Linked DNA regions of Homo sapiens. The protein of the gene in region 1 interacts with the protein of each later gene in a biochemical or structural test. Each region holds a gene or a part of one and is shown in the gene's direction. Other genes may lie near its edges.

Region 1 (7,024 bases):
TTGGGCAATAAGAGTGAAACTCTGTCTCAAAAAACAAAACAAAACAAAATGATATAACTTTTAGAAAAATCGCAAGAGAAAATCTTGAGGATCTAGAACTAGGCAAAGACACCAAAATGGAACTTTATGAAAATGTAGCACTAGCCTAGGGTGAGTGTGGATGTATCACTATTTGTGGATGTAGAAACAGGAGTAGATGAGGGTGAGTCACTTGTCCTGCCTGCCACAGAGCGAATCAGTGGAAGGGCTAGGCTTTGGCTCACAGCCCACACACCTAGCACTGGGATGCACCGAGGTCACCACCACGCGCCTTTGTCTTCCCTGCACACCAGATGCAGCCAAACACCAAAGCCCAGGTCAGTGGCACCGGAACAACACATCAGTTTAGAGGATTTCTGATGTTATTCCACTTTGGTTATTGGCAGTAGAGATGGTTCTATCTAATGACTAAGAACTGGTATGTAGGATCATGATAACTTACAATAATGCCACCTTTTTCTCTGAAAGTCTTCATTTTCTCTGCTCTAGATGGTAAAAGCAATCCAGGTTTTGCGCATTCATCTTCTTGAGCTGGAAAAGGTTAACGAACTCTGCAAAGATTTCTGCAGTCGATACATTGCTTGTCTGAAAACAAAAATGAACAGTGAAACTCTGTTGAGTGGAGAGCCTGGAAGCCCGTACTCACCAGTGCAGTCCCAGGTACTTACATTTGGGGGTCTCGCTTTCCCTCTCTGCCACTGTGAACATCTGCATTGAGTCATGAGACCACCAGCTCTTTCAGAATTCACTGGGTCATCTTTATGACTTTCTACAAGAAGGACCCTCTAGGTCTCTGACCCCAGCCTGGTTTGGGAATGAACTCCCTCAGATTATGAAGTGAGTCCTCAATCTGCATACTGGGCCCCCGGTCCCATGTTTATGGAAGGCACAATTCCATTCATTTCTTTCTTTTATTTCTTCTGAAAATATTTTACTTATTCTTTTGAAAAATTGTGTAAAATACACATAATATAAAATTTACCATCTTAGCTATTTTAAAATTTACAGTTCAATGGTGTTAAGTTTATTCACATTGTTGGGCAACCATCAACACCATCCATCTCCAGAACTTTCTCATCTTCTCAAACTCAAACTCTGACCCCATTAAACACTCATTCCGGATTCCCCCTCCCCTAGCCCCTGGAACCCACCGTTCTACTGTCTGTCTCTGTGAATTCGATGACTCCAGGTCTCTCATGTTAAGCGGAATCGTACAGTGTTTGTCCTTCTGGATCCTTTGCTTGTTTCATTGTGCAGAATGCCTGGAGGGTTCATCCATGCGGAAGCACTATTGTGTTTTAGCCATTCTGATGATATGTAGTGATATTAATATTTCTTTGTGGTTTTAATTTTCATTTCCCTGATGGCTAATAATGTTGAACATTATTATACCCTCTGTGTATTTTCTTTGATAAAATGTCTGCTGCTTATGTCTTTTGCCTTTTTTTTTTTTTTTTTTTTGAGACAGAGTCTCGCTCCATCACCCAGGCTGGAGTGCAGTGGCGCGATCTCGGCTTACTGCAAACTCCGCCTCCTGGGTTCATGCCATTCTCCTGCCTCACCCTCCTGAGTAGCTGGGACTACAGGTGCCTGCCACCACACCCGGCTAATTTTTTGTATTTTTAGTAGAGACGGGGTTTCACCGTATTAGCCAGGATGGTCTCGATCTCCTGACCTCGTGATCCGCCCGCCTTGGCCTCCCAAAGTGCTGGGATTACAAGCATGAGCTACCACGCCTGGCCGTCTTTTGCGCATTTTTTAGTTGGATTTTTTTTTAACTTCTGAGTGTTGAGAGTTCTTTGCTTATTGTAGATACTAGTTCTCTGTTGGATATGTGGTTTGCAAGTGTTTTCTCCAAGTCTATAGTAGCTAAGTATTTTTCTCATCCTCTTAACAGGTCTTTTTCAGAGCCAGCCTTTTTAATTTTAATAAAGTTCAATTTATTAGGTTTTCCTTTTATGGATCATTCTTTTGGTGTCAAGTCTAAGAACTCTTTGCCTAACCCTAGGTCCCAAAGACTTCGTCTTAAGTTTTTTCCTAAAAGTTTTTAAATAGAGACAAGGTCTCACTATGTTGCCCAGGCTTGTCCCAAACTCCTGGGCTCAAGTGTGAACCACCATGCCTGGCCTCAAAAGTTTTATAGTTGTCCATTTTGCATTTAAATCCGTGATCCATTTTGAGTGGATTTCTCTATAGAATAACTCTCAAAGCTGGGCACATTGTTTCCTCCCACCCTGTGATTCCTTTTCAAAATTGTTTAGCTGTTCTGGTTCCTTTGCCTGTCCACATAAATTTTAGAATGCTCTTGTCTAGAGCTACAAAAACATCTTGCTTAGATTTTGATAGGAATTGTATTATACCTGTATATCAATCTGGGGAGAATTGACATCTTTACTGCATTAAGTCTTCCAGTCCACAGGTATGGCATGTCTCTCCATTGATTGACAACTCTGATTTCATTCATCAGTGCTTTGTAGTTTTTGACACATAAGTTGTGTACATGCGTTTTTAGAATTATACCCAAGCATTTCCTTTCCTGGCCTGTGCCATCTCGAATAAGAGTGGCAAGAGCAGACATCCTTGCCTTGTCACCGCCTTAGGGGACACCTTTCAGTCGCTCACTGTCGATGATGTTGGTTGCAGGTTTCTTTCTAGATGCTCTTTATCAAGTTAAGGAGGTTATCCTATATTGCTTTTTTTCTGAGAGATTTTATTTTGTTCAATTTTGTTAAATGCTTTTCCAGCATTGATTGATATGATTATGTGATTTTTCTTCTTTAGCCTGTTAATAATGGACATTACATGGATTGGTTTTTTGAATATTGAACAAGCCTTCTATTCCTGGAATAAACTCCACTTGGCCATGGCACATAATTCTTTTCATATGTATTCTTGAATTCTATTGGCTAATATTTTGTTCAGCATTTTTGTCTATATTTGTAAGGGATATTGGTGTATAGTTTTGTTTTTCATACTGTCTTTGGTTTTGGTATCAAAATACACAAACTTACATAAAATGGATTGGGAAGTATTCCCTCCTCTTATTTTTTTCTGGAGATTATGTAGACTTGGTGTTATTTCTTAAATGTTTGAGAAATAGAATTGATCTATTTCACCTAAGATGTTAAATTTAGGAGTTTAGAGTTGGTCTAGTATTCTCTTCATAGCCTTTTGGTGTTAGCAGGGTCTATAGTGATCTCTTCCTGTTTTATTTCTGATATTGATCTTTTGTGTCTCTATTTTTTTTTTAGTCAGTCTTTCTAGAGGTTTATGTAATTTTCAAAGAACAGTATTTTGTTTTATTGATTTTTTTGGTTGTTTTTCTGTTTTCAGTTTCATTGATTTCACCTTGATCTTTATTATTTCCTTTCTTCTGCTTTCGGTTCATGATGTTCCTCTTTTTCTAAGATCTTAAGGTGGAAGCTGGGATGATTGATTTGACTAGCTTAACTTTTATTACAGCCTAATTAATGTGGCAGGCTTTAAGCGTAGCCACTAAGCTTACACATTCCGCTCGATGATGGCCCACAGAATCACCGCCTTGGGGTGGCGTCCCCTTATGCTATGTAACTGCTCACATGTCAGGGCACATGAGTGTGCCAGGCCCGGCACTGGAGGCTCCTCTCCCCTGCCAGCTGCCCACCCAGGCGTCACAGTCAGTGGATAAAGTGGCCCATGTGGATCTAACCCCAGATGCATAGAGTCCTCCATGGGGCATGTAGAAACATTTGCATGGGGCTCGCTGTAGGCCGGGCACAGTTCCAAGCACTGTACAAGCAAGAACACTGGGGAAAGCCAAGATCACACTTAGTCCGTGCCGGGGTCAAGAGTCAAGGTGGGTGCCAGGGGCTGACTCCCCAGCACAGCTTGGAATACCTCAGCCCTGGTCACTTCTAGTGCCTCCCAGGCCTGTGCTATAATCTCTTGAATGCTCTTATCGGTCAGGGAGAGCTTGGTTCATGGAAAACTCAAGAGTCCACCAAGCCAAGTCTAATGAAAAAGATGTGTGATCAGAAAGCAGGGTCTTCCTCGATATACTCCTGGGCTGTAAGGCACGTGGAATATGGCAGTGAGATGAAGATAATCTTTTGGAAGCCACAGTGCAGGCTGACGTTGCAGGCTGGCTTGTTGTGTTTAATACACAGTTGAACATCTCTTGCTTTCCGTGTGTGCTGCGTGCATTCTGAAGCCGCGTCATCTGAGGATGTTCTTTCCCTCAAGCTTCTCTTTCCTTTTTTAATGGTGTCATTATGCTACTTATGTTAAAGTTTTAAACATGGGTTTTCCGTTTTCTAGTAATTCCTTCAACATGTGTGTTCTGACTTGCAGCAGATTCAAAGTGCCATCACAGGCACCATCAGCCCTCAGGGAATTGTGGTGCCGGCGTCCGCGCTGCAGCAGGGAAACGTAGCCATGGCGACGGTGGCAGGTACGATGACAGAAAAATGGACACACTCTCCATGAGTTTTTGCAGAAAATGGTCCTGTGTGTTAGAATGACAGTATAAATATAATTTCAAGTTCATGCCATTTTCTAATATAGCAATGTTAGAAGCTAGAGGTCTCTGAATGCCTCTTTCTTGTTAATACTCAATAACAAATATTTTATGCAGATTGTGTTTCTTTGTTTCTCTACCAAAAATATATTGGAAAGAAAAAAGGTTTTATGTAGGAATTGAAAATATACACCAAAAACCAGTTGTCATTTTCAAATAACATAGCTTTTTGTTGTGCTTTTAATAGCACCGTGAAAATCTTAAGTTTTATCATTAATTGATGACAAATAAAAATGCAGTCTTAGCATTGGTATTACTTGTAGAACAAAACCGTTACAGGAAAGGGACAGATTCCAGAGTTCCCTGATGCGTAGAGAACATTGAAAACACAAAGCATCATGGAAATGGGACACGGCAAAGAGGGAGGGGTAGAAATTTACACCAAAGACCTCACATAATAGCACAAAGGGAAACCTCAGTGGGAAAAAAAAAAGCACCATTGATCCAAAAATATAACTAGAATTAAAATAGTTATTATTTAGTACCCTTGGCCAAATCCTTAACATGTGCTAATTTTAGGAAATAGTAGAAAGCAGAGGCTAGCAAAAGGAAGGGAGCCCTCACACCCCAGGTCAGTTGGTGGTGTGTGAGCCGGGCTGTGTGGGCTGCCAGGCACATAGCGCCCACCCACCTGCCCACCCACTGCTGCAGGTGCCCGAGTAGCCCACCCAGGGAGTTTGTTTTGATACTTTATAGTGACAAGTCAACTGGCAAAGGATTGTTGATCTTTTGAAATGATTAAAAAGCTCATCAAACCAGGGATTTTATTCCTTTTGTAAGTATATCAAGAAGAGGGCTGGTCGCAGTGCCTCACATCTGTAATTCCAGCACTTTGGGAGGCCAAGGCAGGAGGATCAGTTGAAGCCAGGAGTTAGAGACCAGCCTGGGCAACAAAGCAATGTCCCTGTCTCTACAAAAAAAAAAAAAAAAAAAAAAAGAAGAATGGTTTAAATCATTGAGACTTAAAAGCAGCCTCATATTTTTATTCTCCCTTTCGAGGTGGCACAGTGTATCAGCCTGTCACGGTCGTCACTCCCCAAGGCCAAGTGGTCACACAGACATTGTCGCCTGGGACAATTAGGATCCAGAACTCCCAGGTGCGTGCGCCATTTTATGGAAGGCTTTGGGGGCGAGTGCTGCCCACATAGGGGCACAGGTAGAACAAGCATGAGCCCTTCCCTCTGCCTGAAGAGCTTTGTCTTGTGTAGCAATTTCTGGTTTCTCTGAATGTCAGTGTTTTGTTTCTTTGTACTCTTATCTCTCGCATTGTAGAGAATTTGCAAAGTTCAGAAAATTCTGAAAGAACAGGAAAAAAGTCACTCATAACCACCCCCTGCCACCCACACACACACACACACACACACACACACACACACACACACACACACACAGAGTTATCCAGTGCTAACGTTGGATCATGTGCACGTGCACCAGGGGCAGAGGTCTTGTAGGCACACACTCCCCAGGGTCCCCACAAAGGGCACGGCAGAACTGCCAGGCAAGCTTTTCAGACCAGTGAGCCTGGCCCACACCTCCATCATGACAATGTCATTGGGCCAGGGCTTTCAGGCCTCTCTGTCACCCAGGCTGGAGTGCAGTGGCGCTATCTCTGCGGCTGCTGAGCCTTGCCCGTCTTTGGTGTGTGTTATCAGTTCTTACTTTAAGAACATTGATTCTGGGCCGGGCACGGTGACGTCTGTAATCCCAGTACTTTGGGAGGCCAAGGTGGACAGATCACGAGGTCAGGAGTTCAAGACTAGCCTGGCCAGTATGGTGAAACCCTGTCCTTAAAAATACAAAAATTAGCTGGGTGCAGTGGTGCACGCCTGTAATCCCAGCTACTCGGGAGGCTGAGGCAGGAGAATCGCTTGAACCCGGGAAGCAGAGGTTGCAGTGAGCTGAGATCGTGCCACTGCACTCCAGCCTGAGCGACAGAGTGAGACTCCATCTCAAAAAAAAAAAAAAAACATTGATTCTGGCCGGGTGCAGTGGCTCACACCTGTGATCCCAGCACTTTGGGAGGCCGAGATGGGTGGATCTCTTGAGGTTAGGAGTTTGAGGCGAGCCTGTCCAACATAGTGGAACCCCGTCTCTACTAAAGATGCAAAAATTAGCTGGATGTCGGGTGCATGTCTATAATCCCAGCTGCTCGGGAGGCTGAGGCAGGAGAATTGCTTGACCTGGGAGGTGGAGGTTGCAGTGAGCCGAGATCGTGCCACAGCACTCCAGCCTGGGCAACAAGAGCAAAACTCCATCTCAAATAAAATAAAATAAACAAAAAAAAAACACACATTTTTTTGAGACTTTGCAAACCTAAAAATGAGTTTATTTTAATCTCATATTTGATATGCAGTCTGTTTACTTGTAGAATTCTGGGTTGAAAATCCTTTCTACCCAACATTGAGAAAGCATTACTTTTGTTTTTCTGAG
Region 2 (7,229 bases), on another chromosome or scaffold:
GCTAATTTTGTATTTTTAGTAGAGATGAGGTTTCTCCATGTTGGTCAGGCTGGTCTCGAACTCCTGACCTCAAGTGATCCAACCTCCTTGGCCTCCCAAACTGCTGGGATTACAGACGTGAGCCACCGCGCCTGGCCAATAATGACTAGTGTTTTTAAAATGTGATTCAGTGGGCTTCACTTATTATTCTGAAAAAAATACAGCATGATTACTAGCATCATTAATTGTTTTAAAATATATTTGTTAAATGTTTATTATAATGAGAGCCCTGCTGAGATATGGAAGGAATAAAAAAGCATTATCCATTCCTTGTCACAACCCATAAGCTATGGAAATTGCAAGTATTAGTTTCTTTTCAGAAGTTTCTAAATGCAAATAAAATATGATTATAATTTCTTTGTTAATTTAATTATTTTTTGAGACAGGGTCTCACCCTGTTGCTCAGCCTGGAGTACAGTGGCATGATCATGGCTCATTGCAACCTCTACCTCTCAGGCTCGAATGATCTTCCTGCTTAAGCCTCCTGAGTAGCTGGGACTACAGGATAGTGCCACCATGCCCGGCTCATTTTTAATTTTTTTTTTTTTTTTTTTTTTTTTTTACAGAGACAGGGTCTCACTATGTTGCCAGGCTGTTTTCGAACTCCTGGGCTCAAGCAATCCTCCTATCTTGGCCTCCCAAACTGCTGGGATTACAAGTGTGAGTCACTGCGCCTGGCCTGAAGATTCTATTTCACCTATGGTACTTCCTCCTCTTTATGTCCTTTATTCTCTGTAATGTATTAAAGAATAAGAGTTTTTACATCATACTTTGTCTAGTAATTCTACTTTTAGGGACCTTGTTTTCTTCATCTGCAAAATGGAGATTGTAACCTCATAAGGAAGTTATTTAAATGAAGTGTTAGATTGTTAAAACTAAGTGGTAATGTACAATCAGTGCCTGAAACACAATCAGCAGTCAACAAATTCTATTTATATCTATAATTATTATTATATTAATGCCATTGCATTTTTCTCATTCAAGCTTGAAGACATTTCTTTTATCCTTCCCACTCACATAAAATCAATTATAAATTTCTATTGACTCTGTCTTGAAGATCTTCCTCAAAATGGTCCTCTCTTTTCCATTTCTACTGCTGCTTTCCTAATTTCATCTTTCCTTGCCAAATGATTTGGGTAAACAGCTAATTGTTGCCCAAAGTGTTGAGTAACCAGATAATTCTTCCCGAAACATGCTCTTCTGTTCCTATCTGTGAAAGAAAGAAACAACTTACCTCAGTGTATCCCTAATGTCCATCAAATAAAACACAAATGTTTCTGTTAAAAGTCTTTCCAGTTGGGCGCGGTGGCTCACTCCTTTAATCCCAGCACTTTGGGAGGCCAAGGCAGGTGGATCACGAGGTCAGGAGTTTGAGACCAGTCTGGCCAATACAGTGAAACCCCACCTCTACTAAAAAAAAAAAAAAAAAAAAAAAAAAAATTGCCAGGCCTGGTGGCGGGTGCCTGTAGTCCCAGCTACTTGGGAGGCTGAGGCAGGAGAATCACTTGAACCCAGAGGGTGGAGGTTGCAGTGAGCTGAGATCGCTCGACTGCACTCCAGCCTGAGTCACAGAGTGAGACTCTGTTTCAAAAAAAAAAGTCTTCCCAATCACACCTAATAACATTTCCATTGTGCCTGAAGAGATAGCCTGTACTTCCGTCAAGTTCATTAACCTAGCCCTCCAGATCCAGTTCATCCTTTAGATCCACCGCGAAGCCTTCTATTCACTCGAACTGGTTACTCCCTTCTCTCATCTCTTATAGGATGTCTAAGGGCTTGTTATCACTTCTATAGCATTTATTATGTATTGAAATATATCTGGGCAACACTCTAGAGTAATGGTTAAAAGCATAGCTATCGGGGTAAGACAGTTGCAATGATTAAATTAACAAAACACCTTGAATATAATACTTAATTATAGTATGGAGTCAATAAATATTACCTATTTTTAGTATCATTGTGTATACACATCTTATTTCCCTACTAAAATGTTCCTAGATGACAATGATCTTCTGGAATTGATGGTACCTTTTCCAGTACTTTGCCTAGAAAGATTTTATTAGGTTTGCAATTAGAATTAATTACTCACAAACTGATTTCTTATAGACTCTAGGTTGACTTCTTTTCATGCTTTAAAATGTGGTAACTTCGTCTCTGTAAGGGATATGCTAACTCTCAATCACTGTGATTGATATGTGATTTGAGTATATAGTTTTGTGCTCAACTTTTGATTAGTGTTAATTTTTAAAAAAACAGTTTAAAAATCAGGATATGTATGTGAATAAAACAATTGTTATTAAGTAATATAACATCATAATTACAATTAATACTCTGTATTGCATGCCCTCATACCAATAAGTGCCAAGTAGCTTGCTAAAAACTGCTTTGAAATGCTTGCATCAGTGCTCCTTATCTTGCCAAACTTGTTTTGCGTAATGATTGGTGAGAAGAATAACATTTTATTTGAGGATCTCGAAGCACCTGGCAAGGCTGCTTTCCATTTTGCAGATTGGTTACACTGCGCTTGCAGATTGGTTACACTGCGCTTTGCATTTCCTTTGCTATACTGCCATCCAGGAAGAGGGCTGGCTACACAATAGAATATTTTATATTACAAAATATTCTGGACATTTCCTAAGTAATTGGCCTGCTATTTTATCTTATATTCATTGTGACTGTGTACACAGTCAGATTTTTCCCTCTCACTTTGCCCAATGAAAAGATTGGAAGCAAATTTGTGTCTGTCTGGAGCTATGATACTGGACCTTAGTTATGACTTTTGTTGGCTTTTTTCTTGATCCCATTGTATTTATTTTTTATTTTTTCCTACCCATTTTCAATTGGAGTTGTCTTGTTGGAATATGTACCCTTTTAAGCACCTCAAGTTTCCTTTCAAACTGGACAGGCAATAGACACATAACTAATTTTTAACACTATTCACACATTTCTGTTAGACTGAAGCAGATTGTGCAGTGGAAATACTAGGCCTTTGGAGGGAGTCACACTTGGGTTTAAATTCCAGCTTTGACACTTAATAACTGTGGACCTTGGACAAATTATTTAACCTTTCTGAGTTCCCTCTCTGTAAAATGGAAATAATAATCCATAACTCACAAAGATGTCTTGGGGATTAAATAAAATAACTCATGCAAATTACTTGGTGCATAGTAGGCATTCAATAAATGTCAGTTCACTTCTCTTCCCAGTTAATAATGCTTATTAGACTATATTAAAAACTAGAACTAGACTGTGATAATGCATTTCTTTATTAGGTATTTAAGCCAAATAACTAATTTCCCCCGGGGGAAGAGAGAGAAATGTTGAATTAGTTTCATTTGGTGAACTTATTTATTAATCTTTCTTTTTCTTGAGCATTTTTCAGTTTCATAGTCCATAATTTAGTTTTCATGCAGCAAAAATGACACAGTTTGGTATTCTTTTCACCTTTACTGTGCTAGAATTGTTTTTTTAAATGTATCTATTATTACATCTGCCACTTATTAGAGATCTTTATTAATTATATTAACAGCTCGATTGTGTTTCATAACTACGTCGTGCTGACAAACTTGTGCTCTCAGCAGTTTCCCTGAGGTCTAAGCATTTAAAAGAATCAAGTTTTAAATGACAATGCCACAGCAAAAGAAAAGCAGGGGTGGGCGGGAAGACGCACACCGTCTGTGTTCTTTCGTGTTAATTTTATATGTTTGCATTTAAGTGGAGCCACATTTTCCTCAAGGACGCAACCTAAGTAAGGCGAGCAGGGAAAGTGGAAACTAAGTGAGCTGGAACTACAGTACCATTGCACCTTTAAGGACTGGAGACTTGCTATTAGCTCGGCCTCCTTCCCGGCCCACCTCTGAACTCTGATTGACAGGGCGCCGGGCGAGGAGGAGCTGAAGGAGGCTGGAGAGGAGGCGCCGTGAGGAAAGTAGGGGAGGAGGGGGCCGGTCCTTTATCTGGTGGCCAATCAGGGAAGCGGGGAGGAGCTCCAGGCGCCCTCCTCCCTCCTCCTCTCCCCAGCCTCCCGGCTTCCCCGCCCCCTCCCCTTCCCTTTGCCCCCTCCCCTCTCCTCCTTCTCGTCCTCCTCCTCCTTCTTCTCCTCCTCCTCCTCCTCCTCTCAGGCTGTGGTTTTTCTGTATATGTTTCTGGAGTCCTGAGCCTGAGCTAAACAAAAGCAGGAGGCTGACGGGGCTGCTGGAGTTTGCAGAGACACGGAGGAGGAGAGAGCCTGTGCTTTGCCTGCCGCCGCGGCTGGGGGAGATCTGGCTTTTGCAACAGCCCACCCCCTTTGAGATCACTCTGGCCCGGAGTGGGGGTGGGGGGCAGCGGGGGGTGGGGGGGGAAAGTTTGCATTGCAATCCCCCTGCCTTCCTCTCCTTTCTCCCGATCAATGCATATTTGCAAAAGGATTAAGCCACAGATTTAAGCGCCGGGAGCCCATTTCTGCCTTGCAAAGGAGACCGGACTGAAAAACCTAAAGCCAGCTCTGATTTCTTTTCGCCAAGTGGGAAGGTGGTTTATTTTTCTTGCTTTTTGGAGTCAACACCCTTCCCCACCAGCCCTTATCCCCACCCTCACCCCGCAACCCCTTCACGCCCCCTCCCCCTCCCCCTCCTCATCCTCCCACCATCCTCTAAAGAGGCAAAGGGATTTTTTTTTTCTTTTGGTCTTCTTTTTTCCCCCTTCCCTGTTTATCCTGAAAAGGATTTGAAGACAAGCTTGAAGGATAAAAAGCCTTGGTGCTTCCCAGGAGCCGAGCCGAGGAGCAGAAGAGGAAGAGCCGGGGGCTGCCGTAGCCTTTGGAGATGGACGAGCAGCCCAGGCTGATGCATTCCCATGCTGGGGTCGGGATGGCCGGACACCCCGGCCTGTCCCAGCACTTGCAGGATGGGGCCGGAGGGACCGAGGGGGAGGGCGGGAGGAAGCAGGACATTGGAGACATTTTACAGCAAATTATGACCATCACAGACCAGAGTTTGGATGAGGCGCAGGCCAGGTGAGATGGAGGCTTTTCTTTTCCTTTCTTGGGGTTTTTTGTTTTTCTTCCTCTTGCAGGGGGAAACAATGGGAACCGAATCACCACAGCGCTTTTTTTGAAAAATGTTATTTCTTTTCTCATTTTGACAAGCAACTACATGGCGGAGGAGTAAAATTTGAAGGAGCGTTGTTATCGAAAGTGTAATCGCCCATGCCGAGATGTGGCTGTGTACATATTTGTGTGTGTGTGTGTGAATATAGGGGTATTCATTTATATCCACACAAACACACAGGCATGCCGAAAATACTGCCAACTGATCCAAAAGCGGCCCTCGGCACTTTTTACTGCTTTAAAAAAGTATCAGAGAAAGCAGAATTGTCAAGTTTTGAACAGCATTCCATGCCTTCTTGTTGAGGGGACTCTGTAACATTACGAAATAAAATGTCCCAAGAACACTTTATTTGCAAATTTAGTTGACTCCTTACCTAATTCAGCGAGTTTGATTTTCTTTCTTGACTCTCCCGTCCAAAATTAATTTTTATCTTTTCTCCTTTCTTCCCCCCCTACCCAAAATACAAAACAACAAAAAAGCAGGGTATTTCTTTGTCAGTACTTGTCAGCTATCCAGAAAATATTTTGCATTCACTTAATTTTGTTTTTTTAAAAAGTTGATGAAAAGGTGATTTTGTTTTTAGGCATATTTGTTAGTTTTAAGAGACTCAGATTTTTAGTTTAACTTTATTGTCTCCTAATTTCAGCCGGTTTACTAACCTTCCGTGACACAGACAGCTATGTAGGGTCCTTTAAAAAGGGGTGGGGGGACAAAAATCAAGCATGCTCTTTTCCCCCATGCTTCTTTCAGGACCACTTAGAAATGAAAGCATTTATGAATTTTATATATTTCAGTACTATAGGACATGAAGGTCTTCATTAAGGAAACATAATAAACTGTGTAGCCTCTCAAGTTAATCCACTGCCAGGTATATGGTTCTCTACTTCAGGATTTTACAGTAAATTCTCTTTTAAAGTAAAACATAGACTAAGTGACAACCCGCTAACAGCTTGCCCAAGGCCGAACTCAAAAGGAAGAATTTTAAAAATCTAATGACCACATATGTCTGTACAATTACCCAGCTTTGTTATATCTCCGAAGTAGCGTTTTTCTCTTTGAAAACCCTGTAAACAAATATACGCAACTCCTATACTTCAGATGACTTGGTTATATGGAGAAGACATCATTATGTGTATTTCTGTCTACGTGAAATAAGAATCTGAGTTGAGAAAATGAGAGGAAGCAGTTAAAAACATAGATGTTATGAATTATACTCAATTTTAGCTGCAAGCACATGCAACATGTAAACTCAAAAGTACTAAGGTTTACGGGTGTTTGAAAACTTGGAAATGTTGAAAGACTCAAAGTATCCTAAGTTTTGTTTAAATAGGGGAAATTTTAAAAATTAATTGGTGCTCTCTTTGAATTTTATTATCTGAAGAAAAGCTAATAGGTATGGTAAGAGGAAGATTTCCCACTGGCAATTCTCTTTTGAATTGGAACATTTTTCTCTATTATATTGTTCTAGAAGAATACTCTCAGACATACCAATAAACTGGCTTAAAAATAAGTTTGTGAAGTGGAAGGGGCTAGTAAGAATAGATACTACTTTTTTGATGTTCAGTCTCTCTTCTTTTGTGAAACTGTGGACAAACAGGGCTTGGCGACTTCCCCCTTTCAATGGCCTAGATGCAGAGAGAGATCAGATACAATTTTGGGATGGGGAAATTTTCAGTTCTTCCTCTGTAGCTGGCTCCATTTGTGTGCTGTGGAAATACAATATTTTTATAAAGCTGTGTGAGAATTTTTGTTTGCATTTGGGCCTATATATAATAATAGAATTAATTAAAACTATTTTAAAAGACCCAGGAAAGGTCTTTAATACTTTAAAGTATTTTCCATCTTTTTTTTTTTCTACCCCACATGAGAACTTACTAAAATCAACGCTAAGCTTTCTTTTTGGATAAACAATGTAACTCCACTTAGTAGATAGTATGTCCTTTTTTCCTTTTTCTAGTCACACCTTTATAATGTGTATTTATTATTTACAAAAGTAAACCATTAATATTTTAGATATAATGTATGTGTTCATTTTGATAGTCCTGAATTTTGACTTTATTACTCCCCTGCTGTACAGTACATAGGGCATGTTTCTGATCT

Evidence for each region.
Region 2: the proteins of PKNOX1 (region 1) and PBX1 form a complex in vitro, tested with the Homo sapiens proteins (2 studies listed by BioGRID).

What each region holds. Positions count from the first base shown.
Region 1 is NC_000021.9:43,012,540-43,019,563, forward strand, and holds part of PKNOX1 (homeobox protein PKNOX1), read left to right. Parts: intron 1-528; coding exon 529-699; intron 700-4,368; coding exon 4,369-4,468; intron 4,469-5,593; coding exon 5,594-5,691; intron 5,692-7,024. UniProt on the Homo sapiens protein: Activates transcription in the presence of PBX1A and HOXA1.
Region 2 is NC_000001.11:164,554,979-164,562,207, forward strand, and holds the start of PBX1 (pre-B-cell leukemia transcription factor 1), read left to right. Parts: upstream 1-4,205; 5' UTR 4,206-4,844; coding exon 4,845-5,035; intron 5,036-7,229. UniProt on the Homo sapiens protein: Transcription factor which binds the DNA sequence 5'-TGATTGAT-3' as part of a heterodimer with HOX proteins such as HOXA1, HOXA5, HOXB7 and HOXB8. Binds to the DNA sequence 5'-TGATTGAC-3' in complex with a nuclear factor which is not a class I HOX protein.